Linked DNA regions of Homo sapiens. The protein of the gene in region 1 purifies or fractionates together with the protein of each later gene. This does not show direct contact. Each region holds a gene or a part of one and is shown in the gene's direction. Other genes may lie near its edges. The genes, in order: SERTAD4, DCX and ZNF235.

Evidence for each region.
Region 2: the proteins of SERTAD4 (region 1) and DCX purify together in Homo sapiens (affinity purification with mass spectrometry; one large-scale study listed by BioGRID and IntAct). This does not show direct contact.
Region 3: the proteins of SERTAD4 (region 1) and ZNF235 purify together in Homo sapiens (affinity purification with mass spectrometry; one large-scale study listed by BioGRID and IntAct). This does not show direct contact.

The regions. Positions count from the first base shown.
Region 1 is NC_000001.11:210,242,796-210,246,910, forward strand, and holds the end of SERTAD4 (SERTA domain-containing protein 4), read left to right. Parts: 3' UTR 1-3,004; coding exon of another isoform or gene 3,005-3,132; 3' UTR 3,133-3,460; downstream 3,461-4,115.
Region 2 is NC_000023.11:111,328,688-111,332,342, reverse strand, and holds part of DCX (neuronal migration protein doublecortin), read left to right. Parts: intron 1-1,301; coding exon 1,302-1,439; intron 1,440-3,655. UniProt on the Homo sapiens protein: Microtubule-associated protein required for initial steps of neuronal dispersion and cortex lamination during cerebral cortex development. May act by competing with the putative neuronal protein kinase DCLK1 in binding to a target protein.
Region 3 is NC_000019.10:44,298,523-44,302,177, reverse strand, and holds part of ZNF235 (zinc finger protein 235), read left to right. Parts: intron 1-2,445; coding exon 2,446-2,572; intron 2,573-3,274; coding exon 3,275-3,370; intron 3,371-3,655. UniProt on the Homo sapiens protein: May be involved in transcriptional regulation.

The DNA.
Region 1 (4,115 bases):
ACAGGGAGCTAGATGAAATGGCTTAATGGTGCTGTTAAGTATTTGTACCTAACAGTCTTGTGTGACAGATGAAAATAGGATGTAACATAATGAAACACACCTGTCTAGGGGCGGCAATCAACAGTCTTACACAGAGAGGGTATTCCCTGCAAGTTTCTGGCTTGCCTGTGATGGGTGATGAGGCTTTTAGAGAGGTGTTATACAGGGCGATTTTTGGTGCCTTACTTTTATCTTAATTTTTGCCAATGTGAAAATTAAGGATAAATCAGAGTTACAGCAGGGATTTAACAAACAGGACAAAAAAAAAAAAAAAAAAAAAACCACAGGGTGGATCAATATGGTTTGGAAACTGTTAACTTTGAACTATTGTGTTCAGCTTTTGATTCGACATCTCTATTCTTTATTTTTGATGCCCAATTGCTTTTGGATTCGCCGTTTTTTCAATAGGGATGGAGGAAATGAGAGAGAGAGCTGTTAGAAAGCAGCACGGGCTGCTCGAGCTTTTCTATGGCAACTGTGTGTTGCTGGGGTTGGGGTTTTCTGGGTTTTGGGTTGTTTTGTTTTGTTTTCTTGTCCAATGAAGTTCACGAACCAGTGGCATGCATTATACTTTTCTCTGTTTTGCATCATTTCACTTGTTTAGATTATAAAAGCATGTGGGTTTTTATATATGAACTTTGCTGTTGATTAAGAAGCACAATGTTAATAAATGATGTGGTGATCAATAAGGTTTATCTTAAAGAATGTAAAGACTTTAGGTTTTTGAAAGTTATTTTGGAGAAATGGGACTTAATCTATAATAGTTACTATGTATTTGGTCTACATTTTCCAAATAATATCTTTAACTTGTACATTTGAAAAGTGTTCAGAGTGGCCCTCCTACCATCCTTCCTTCCACTCCAGCCAACTCTTCCTGCTAAACTGTATTCCAGTTTCCAAGTTTACTAATTGACTTGGGCCTGTTCAAATAATACTTCACAGAAACCAAATGCCAAACGGAGGAAATAAGTAAGCCCTCCCAGTTTCTCCAAGATAAAGCTTTTTTTATTATTGCTATTAATATTAAATATAGGTCTCATTCATACAGTGTATGAGTAGGATCATTTGGACAATTGTCCACAAAGACCAATTTTTAAAACATTTTCTTGTGTTATAGTTAAATAGTCTAGTAATGTTTTGTCCTTTATTTTCAATATTTGATAAACATTTGATGTTCAAAACTTAGCTAATAGATGCTTGTATATGAATGTGTTGTAATAAAGTGAGGTTTTCTTGATATATATTTATTAAGATGATAAAAATTCATTAAGTTTTTTAAATTTTAATGGCTATTGGCTATGTTTCTCTTTTCCATTATTCTCTCTCCTTTAAAAAACTCAAAACATCTAGAAACTGTAGTGGATAGTGGCCACACAGGAGTTTTCTAAATTAAAGAGTATTTTAAAATGCCAATCTGACAGGTGTTTCAGAATGATCCTAGTTCGTAAGTTTAAGTTTCTATTGATTAAGAAGCACAATGTTAATAGATGATGTGGTGATCAATAAGGTTATGTCTGAAAGAATGTAAAGATTTTCCTTTCTGGAGTGTCTCTGAAAAAAATTGTATAACACGAAGCCATAAATACTGAATCTTAGCTGATTGCATTATGAACTGTCAAACTGTGAAGATGACCCATATGTAAACAGTTATAACAGCTACAGATTATTGCTAGTAGCATTCCATACAATTCCATATTAATGTTCTTAGGAGCTAATATTTGATAAAGGGGAAAGCTAGTTAAAAACTAATTAATTTGTCAAATGTAGCATTCTTATTATGAGTGTAATATCTCATGGAGATTTAAATATGAACGAAAGGACTTATCCTTCTGCTTTTTAAAAGCCCCAGCATTACTAGATAGTGTTTTTCTTGAAGGCCAAAGCTGTAAAATGACAAAGTTGGTGATTTTCAGCAGCACTCACCTGAGCTGTGAGCGCCTGCACCTGTTCGGTAGAACCCACTAGAATCACTTCTCTGTAGGATAAGTGATGCCTTTGAATCCAGCAGCATAAAAATCTGTTCTTTTTAGTCATCAAGTTTTTGTTTCCAGGATATTTCTAGCATTGCAAAAAAAAATTTCTTCACCAAACACTAATTCCTAAACACCCATCCAAACCACAAAAATTCTCTTGTTAGTAGGCGAGAGTGCTAGGACTTCCTGTGTTCACCTCCCATGCACCCAGCATTGTCTTTTATGCATGAGATATTCCATTAGATTTTCCTAGAGTGGCCAGGACACCCTTCATAGTAAGTTATATCTCTTAACTGGATTCTATAGTTTTATCTCGAGCAACTTGGAAAAGCTAAGACATCCTCCACCCACACTGGTATCTACGCGCCTGGAAGCTGCACCTTCTCTCATTGCTGTGCTCTGCTTTAAGGAAAACCTGATATGACAGAATCAAGACTATTAAAAGATAAATGAGGGGAAATCTTCATTTAAGAAAGTTGCCTTGCTCCCCAAGAGTGCCTTTAATTGCTATTCCCCTAGGCATCTGGGTGCATATCATTAATGAAATCATTAACCTTTGTCTCTGGTCCTTCCTTTCTAAAAACAGCAGATTATAGAAGGTGGTCTGGCAAAGGGATTTTCAAAGGGCAAAAGTCTCATCATCATCTTTCCACTCAAAATCCTATTATTCTACATTTCACTTTGCAGGGGTCCTAGGGACAGGATTGCAGGGACAGGGGACATGGGAGGAAGACAGAAAAATTCAAAACCAGCAGATGCCACTACCTGGCAATGAATTGAAAATTAGGGGAAAGCATCTTTGGCGTGACCTTTTATTAAGACAACAGAAATTTAGAACATTTTACATGCTTCTTTGTTAAATGGTGAAGCAAGGGAATGAAAGTATTTATTTTTAGAGCTCATAGTTAACTCCATCAAGACATGGCTACCCACCCCTCCAGTTATGAACTTGTATTACAGCTCCACTTGGTGACTTCCTTTCTGTGTATCAGGAGCAGAGCAGAGGACAACTTGTAGAAGACATGACCATTAAGAGACATCAACTTCGCAACAAATATAAGACAAGGATACAAGGATTCCTATGTGATGCAGCTAGGTTTTTATATCCTTCTAACAAATGGTGAGCAGGAGACTTTTTTGGAAATAATTAGTTGTGAAATTCCATTTTTCTGACAGCCCCTTAAATTTGAAGTTATTTCATTTGTAGTTAAGGTTATCACATCCCTGCCAATTTTACTAGATTTTTTCAGAGACAAGCATTCAGCATGGCATTAGTAATGATGGTTTAAACTAGGTGCAGAACTGTCCCATGAAGAGAAGAATGATATCAGTATTTAAATAATAAAAGAAGAGACAATGTATGGTTTATAGTGATTCATTTTAAGATTGCTGTATTTTGATTTTGTGGTTTAAAATAAATGCATTAAGGATCTTTTAAGTTACTACAAGATGCCTCTCTGTTGCTTTCTTAGCTATAGTGCCTAAGCAAGGTATATTATCTTGACATGGCTAAAATGTCTCAATTCTATGTGATATAGCTACACGACCTGGGGTGAAAGAGTTACTAGTTTGGAGATTATTTCCCAGCCTTGGGTACCTGCCATATTTGAGCTGGGAGAACTCACTTAGGAAAAGCACTTGCAAAGATGTAAGTTATGAACACTTGAATCTCGCATCCTGCCATAAAGTGCATCAGCAAGTGACTTTAATAAAACATGCTGTTTAAAATAGTCTGTAATTTCCTGTTTCTGCATTTCCCTTCAGTATCTGTGACAGGCTGAAGAACGATGACTAAACGAAGGGAATTTACACAAGCTAGTCTGGTGGTGTTTGCAAACCATCGCCATGAGCTTCATCTTCTTTGGTAAACAATCCGCTGGTGGGCTGTCTATGGTTGGTTTCTTTTCTTTGTTGTTGATCCAATTTGTTAACTTTGAAAATGCAAACTACTTATTCACAGTGTGGAAACACCTGCTTTTGACCACAATGAAACTGATAGAATGTATGGCGATGTATTAGTTGTTTCTCATGAAATTTCTTATATTTCTCAACCCCATTTCTATGACTCTTCTCTTGATTTAAAAATATGAAAATCGAATAAAA
Region 2 (3,655 bases), on another chromosome or scaffold:
AACAACTCAAGTGACAAGAACCCTGTAAGAGGTGGCATTTCTGCTGTGTTCCCTTTAGGAAGAAGCAATGACTATAGAATAGCTAAACAAACCTCAGGTTATGTCCAATTTCCTATACCTTCTGTATCTTCAGCTCTGGACAGTGATCACTAAAGGTCACCAACCAAAACAAGAAGTGAAACAAACAAAAGGGGGCTTTCTGCTTAACTCAGTTTCCTAAAATATTCAATTTACCAGAAAAGCTCCTCTAATCTTTCTGTTTAATTTATATTTCAATGCACCTTTAAGTAGGAGGCAACAAGAAAGTGTTTAAAGGAAAGGAGAGACTATATCCTCTACTCTGCTGTTTGATTCCCCTTTGTGCATCACAGCACAAGGTTGGAAAAACTGTAGTAGAAAGAGCACTAAACTGGAACTCAGGGGACTTGACTTTTAGACCTTGTTTTACTAATTTCTTGTTTTGTGGCCCTAGGCAAAGGGGTTAAGTTTTTTGTACTCTCATCAGCAAAATGAGAATAATAATCCTTCTAATAAATTAGCACTATTAGTGCCCAAAATGACCATAGAAGGGGATGCTGAGTGACCTGCATAGAAAGGGTGTTCCAAAGGTGTCAGACTGAGGCTAGGGCAAATACAAGAACATTTGGCAGACTCTCCCACACACCAGCAAGCTTTCTTAAGTTTTTAGTGGCAGAGTCACTGCTGGCCCATTTATTCATTAACCCCCCATAAGGGATGGCAATAACATACATGGGAAATCGAAAAGAACTTGATAAATGCAAGATGGTGGTGGTCATAGTGCTTATTTATATAAAGTGACATGATATCCATCATGTGTCTATCAACGTGTGGCATGTAATAGTAAGTGGTAGCTCTCTACCTCTCCTTCAAATTACTCAATGGATGTTTCATCTGTGTAGCTGTAACCTCTGAGTTGTTAATCTCTAATTCAGGGAAATTAATTAAACATTATATCAATAGGTGCTATTCTGAGACATAGCTAGCTTGTCCATAAATGATTGAATTGACTATTTAATTGCCTACTTGACCTGTTTATGGACTCTTGCCCTTGTTTTCGTAATTCAGGGGCTTAAACACCTAGCTTAGCCCAGGTGGCTTTTGAAGGTTTCCCTAATGCCTCCCTCCCCAGAACCATGGCTCCTACTAATAATAAGGACCACATTGTAGTCCTGACCCATTTAGGTCCTTTGGCCTGTGATGGTTATTGCGGTTTCCAGAGGCTGATAACATGCTGAGCCTGTTTTATCCTCTACTAAGCTGTCTGTGTCCTTTTGCCCCAGAATGCCGAGTCATGAAGGGAAACCCATCAGCCACAGCTGGCCCAAAGGCATCCCCAACACCTCAGAAGACTTCAGCCAAGAGCCCTGGTCCTATGCGCCGAAGCAAGTCTCCAGCTGACTCAGGTAACGACCAAGACGGTGAGTGCTCTTTTCCTAACTGTGCACGCTGACTTCATTTATGGAGGACAATACTTTCTGCATGCAGAGGAATCAGTTCCTCATGAACACCACTGTGTCTCCATGAAACCCTATTCTATCAATTCAGGGACTAAAACAGTCAAACTTGTTTGGAGTCATGGAGGCACAGCTACAACCATTATTCCATTCAAATGGATGCAAACCAGAAGCCTGGCCCATTGTCTATGCTTGCTGTAATGTTTATTTTCATGGTTGTCATCATTTTCATCATCTTCAACATCATGTGGCAAAAACATATTCAATGGAATAATCAAATTAACCATAAACCTGAAATTAAAAATCAGAATCAAGAAAAAGAATATAAAAAACAACACCCCAAAGTGTCAACATAGTTGACTCACTTGAGCTTCAAATTTGACTCTGAAGTAATTAGAAGCCAAAACAAAAAGGGAAACAAGTACACTACATATATATGCCATATAAATAGGGGGACAAGATAAATTGTATAAACCTCACAACCGGAAAGTAAAGCACAGACCAGGTTCTAAAAGAAAACAAAGAGATTTGCCATAGAAGATTCTATTTAGTGGATAGTGAGTTATCTAAAACATGTCGTCTATTGATCACTGCCAACCCATGAACTATTTATTACCAGTCAGTCTGTGGCAAGATTAGGAGCTTGTGCCAAATGTAAATAAACTATGCCATTAAGCAAACCATTTAGCTCAGCTGCCTTTTTTTCAGAGCCTGATTTTATTGATGAAGGCAGCAGTATGTTGATTTGCATTCTGATGTGAACCCTATCTTGTCTTGGACCCACAGTTTGAGTGACACTGATCTAAGAGGCAATGTCTTCCATTCTTTTATAACAAATATCAAAAATAAAAGGCCTTAGAAGTCCAAGTTCAGAAGCTTAGATTTATGCACAATTTGAGGTTCTTCACACTAAGGAAACTATATGGTCCAAAATACTTATACATTTGTCATCCCAAGGCTCAGAATTTATCATGAGAATTCTTGCAGTCTGAGAGCCTTGGGAAAACAAAAGGGCCCTTCAGTTTGGGGCATCATGAGTAGCCTGATGGCTATGAAATGCTGGTGCCAAGATGAATAGCCTGTACTGCCTGCATCAGACTGCCAGGAGCATGCATATTACCAGCCATCTCTTTATTCTTGGGTTGAGGAAATTAAAGTATGAAAAGGCAACCCAGGCTTTTAGTACTTCCATGTCTTTGCACTCCCTGTTCCCCCATACCTGGAATGCCATCCTCTAACCCATCAGCCTTTTTTGCTTGAAAACTCCTATTCATCCTTCAAGACCTCACATAGAGATAATTGTTCCAGTCTCTGCAATACCATAGCATGCCATTCATATCTTTGGGGTAATATTCACCACACTGTGTTGTCAAGTATGTGTTTACCTGTCTACTTCCCCAATTAAATGCTGAGCCCCTCAAAGGTAATGTGGTAGGTTCATTTTCATATCATCAGTGCAGAGCATAGTGCCTGGCCCCTAGTAGATGCTCCAGTAATATTTGTGAATAAATAGATGCACAACAGTACCTATTTTACCCAACATGGTGCTAGAGACCAATCAAGCATTTAGATAATGTTTGCTGAAGAAATAAAAAATACATGTGCCTTGATGCTATCTTGTTCAAATGTACAGAAGAGCACATAAATCTATATCTAAGCAAATTTATATTGCTGAAACTACAAAGACCTAGGTTTTAACACCTGGGCTGAGAATAAAATTTGACAGTTTTTAAGCAGAGAATTGCAAAAAATACACTTTAAAACACTTGGTCAAGATTAATAAAGTCTGGCAATAATTGCTTAGCTAATCATTTCTCAGAAACAGCAGTAGCTATTTCTGGGATTTCTAACCTGTATTACTTGTATCCTGCTGTGAAACAAATTCATTACCCCAAAACTTAGTGGCTTAAAGAAAAGGCATTTTTTTTTTATCTCACAGTTTTGGTGGGCAAGAAATTCTAGAGTGTTTTATCTAGGTGGTTCTGGCTCAGAGTCTCTCATGTGGGTATCATTAAAATATTAGTAGGGGCTGCAGTCATCTGAAGGCTCAACTGGGGCTGTAGGATCCACTTACAATATGGCTGTTGGCAAGATCTCCTACCTTAGTTTGTGATCCAAGAGAATGAATAAAGAACAAGATGTATTGCCTTTTGTGATCTAGTCTCCATAGCCAACACTGT
Region 3 (3,655 bases), on another chromosome or scaffold:
TTTTCTCATACACAGCACCTCATTTTATGGAGAGAATAAAGTATAGCTTAGTGCAGTAGCATCTGACTGATGCCAAACTCAGAGAAAGTAATTTTAGTTTCAAACGAGCTAGATTTCTTTCTTTAATTCTAAGTAAAACCTTGTATTATAGTTAAGTATCTGTTTTATTCATTAACATGTTATTATATTTTAAAGATGCACATACTTAGTTTAAAAGTCTTATAGCACTAGGAGATTCACCAGGAATTTGCACCATGGAACAGCTTTGTGAGGATGTAGATGGCCTTATCTGTATTTTAAACATAAAGAGACAGGTGTGAACCTTTAGACACTTATTGAAGTCCACTCAATGCCCAGCTGACGTTAAAGCTTCCAGTGCCTAAGCCAGAAGTTTCAGGTGTTCCATTTGGGTGAAGGCCAGGCACAGTGGCTCACCTGTAATCCCAGCACTTTGGGGCTGAGGTGGATCACTTGAGGTCAGGAGTTCGAGATCAGCCTGGCCAACATGGTGAAAGCCTGTCTCTACTAAAAATACAAAAATTAGCTGGGCGTGGTGGCGCACACCTGTAAGCCCAGCTACTCATGTAGATGAGGCAGGAAAATTGCTTGAACCTGGGAGGCAGAAGTTGCAGTGAGCCAAGATCACACCACTACACTCCAGCCTGGGTGACAGAGTGAGACTGTCTCAAAAAAGAAAAAAAAAAAAGAGACTATTCAGGGACTTGAGGCTATGCTACACATGTATGTGTCCCTGGCATGTCCTGGTGGATGAAGGGCTCCAGAAATCACATTGCTCTTCACCAGATTCCCTTTCTCAGTGCATGGCTCTTTGCCACATGTGTCATCGAGTTGTTTGGTACATAGATGTTCAGAACTCCAGCCAAAACAAATGCAGGGATGTGCAGTGTCTTCAGATAAAAAATGTTAATTTCCATACAGAAAAACACCATATACAAACTTTATGAGACAAGTAGGAAACAGGTGCGGGGTAGGAATTTATATATTCTAGAAAATGACTTAATATTCTTAATAGTAATGTTACTGATACATGAAAAATCCCAGTAGGATTAAGGAAAGGCAATATGTGAAGAAAAGTAATATCAGATCATCTTTAAAAAAATTAAATAGCTGTTTATATCACTCACCAAATTACTCAAGATTTAAAAAAAAAAATGTCCAGTTTTGGCCAGAGTATGGAGAATCGGGAATACTTATAATCTCTTACGGGAAGAGTTAATTGAGAAAATTAACATTATACCAGCAAAACAAAGGTATATATATTTTTTTACAATGTAATTACCACTTCTTGGAACTTACCTTTTTTTTTTTTTTTTTTTTGAGACGGAGTCTCGCTCTGTCATTCAGGCTGGAGTGCAGTGACATGATCTTGGCTCACTGCAACCTCCGCCTGCCGGGTTCAAGTGATTCTCCTGCCTCAGCCCCCCGAGTAGCTGGGATTACAGATGTGTGCCATCATGCCCAACTAATTTTTGTATTTTTAGTAGAGACAGGGTTTCACCATGTTTGTCGGGTTGGTCTTGAACTCCTGACCTCAAGTGATCTGCCCGTCTCGACCTCTCAAAGTGCTGGGATTACAGAAGTGAGCCATTGCCCCCAGCTGGAACTTATCTTAAGGAAATAACCATACGAGCTGGCTAAGATCTATGTAAAAATATGTTTTCTTGTGGCATTGTCATTTTTAAATTTAAAATGATCAAATGTGCATTATTTAGAATGGTTAAATATATTGTAGATCATGTTTATGGACTATCATGCAGCTATGAATGGGATGAAATAGATGATGGTGATGATAATAAGAGTTAATGATCAACATTTATTGAGTACTTACTGTATGTCACACACTGTCCTAAGTTCTTATATGTATTCACTCATTTAATCCCTTCAAGGACCCTATGATATAGGTCCTCTTATACAGATGTGGAAATTGAGGTTTTGTGACCAGCGTCACAAAACTAGCAATGGATAGACCCTTGGAATGTGAACTAAGGCAGTCAAACTCCAGAGCCTGTACTCTTAACCTTGACCCTAAATGCTGCTGCAGTTGACCAAGACAGCATGTTCCTGAGAACCCAGAGAGTGAACTGCGTACTTGTGCCAGAGCTTTATGAAGGCCTGTTGGATTGACAAAATAGTGGTAGTACTATCAAACACTGTTGGGAAGAAATTAATGCAAAATTTCTTATCAAATTTGGTGCTATCAGTCAAATGGTAAAATGTGTGTATGCCATGATTTAACAATGACAGTTCTAGGAATTTAACTATATAAAGGGCACCACGTTACATGTACAAGGTGTTTTCCTTCTTCCCCCTAGCATTTTTGGTGTGATTGTGGAAGGGGAAGAATAGTAACTCTACAGAAAGAGTTGCTTAGGTGCCAGTGGCCATTGGGTGTGAGATTGAGGTTACATGTGCTTGATGTTCTAGGAGGCAGTGACATTCAAGGATGTGGCTGTGGCCTTCACTGAGGAGGAGCTGGGGCTGCTGGACTCTGCCCAGAGGAAGCTGTACCGAGATGTGATGCTGGAGAACTTTAGGAACCTGGTTTCAGTGGGTAAGGACAGGCACCCTCTGTAATTCAGCAGGGTTTCTCAACCTCCATGCCATTGATGTTTTGGGCCAGATAATTCTGTGTTGTATCAGGCTATCCTGTGTATTTTGGGATGTTTAGTGGCATCCCTGGCCTCTGTCCCCTTGTTCAAGGCTTTGGGACTGCTCAGAGACTAGAGTTTTTCTATCTCTTTAGAGCATAGAGACAAGATGTTTCTGACCTTTGTTCCAAGACAGATGATTTTCTTTTAGACATGAACTATAAAAGAACAGTTGAGCTTGGCTCCTCCTGATTCCTTATTTCGTATATCTTTTTTAAACTTGTGGGTCATGATCCATTGGTGGGTCAGTAAATTAGTAAGTTACATAAGCATTTTTGTAATAAAATAGAGTAACAATATCAGAGCCCCTTAGCCAGAATGGTGCACATTGTGGCAATAACTGCTGCTGCTTGCCGTAAGGGATGTGATGAAAACAGATATTGATTAGAAATAGGTCCTTTAACCTTTTATTTCAATAGTTTACACAGGGTAATGTATTTCCAGTGATAGTAAATGTATTTCTTATAATGTGTCATGACAAAAAAAAATGTTCCCTAAACATTGCATGCTGGGGCAGGGAGGAGACTTACATCATGTGATTGGAACCAGATTTTTTCAGTACTCTTTGCCTTTAACATTTTCACTTAAATACTATCTTTTTATAGGACATCAGTCCTTCAAACCAGATATGATATCCCAGTTGGAGAGGGAAGAAAAGCTTTGGATGAAGGAGCTTCAAACCCAAAGAGGTAAGCATTCAGGTGAGTACTGTGCAGCCGGAATCGTAGTTAACAGCTGTTATTTTTCCTTTATTCAGGATAATTTCTTCTCCACTCAGCTACCTGAGAGACTTTTTTAAAAAACATCTGTCATGGTTGGGCGCGATGGCTCAAGCCTCTAATCCCAGCACTTTGGGAGGCCTGGCAGGTGGATCACTTGAGGTCAGGAGTTCAAGACCAGCCTGGGGTCTTTAACATAGCAAAACCCTGTCTCTACAAAATGTAAAAAAATTAGCTAGATGTAGGTGTGCCTGTAGTCCCAGCTAC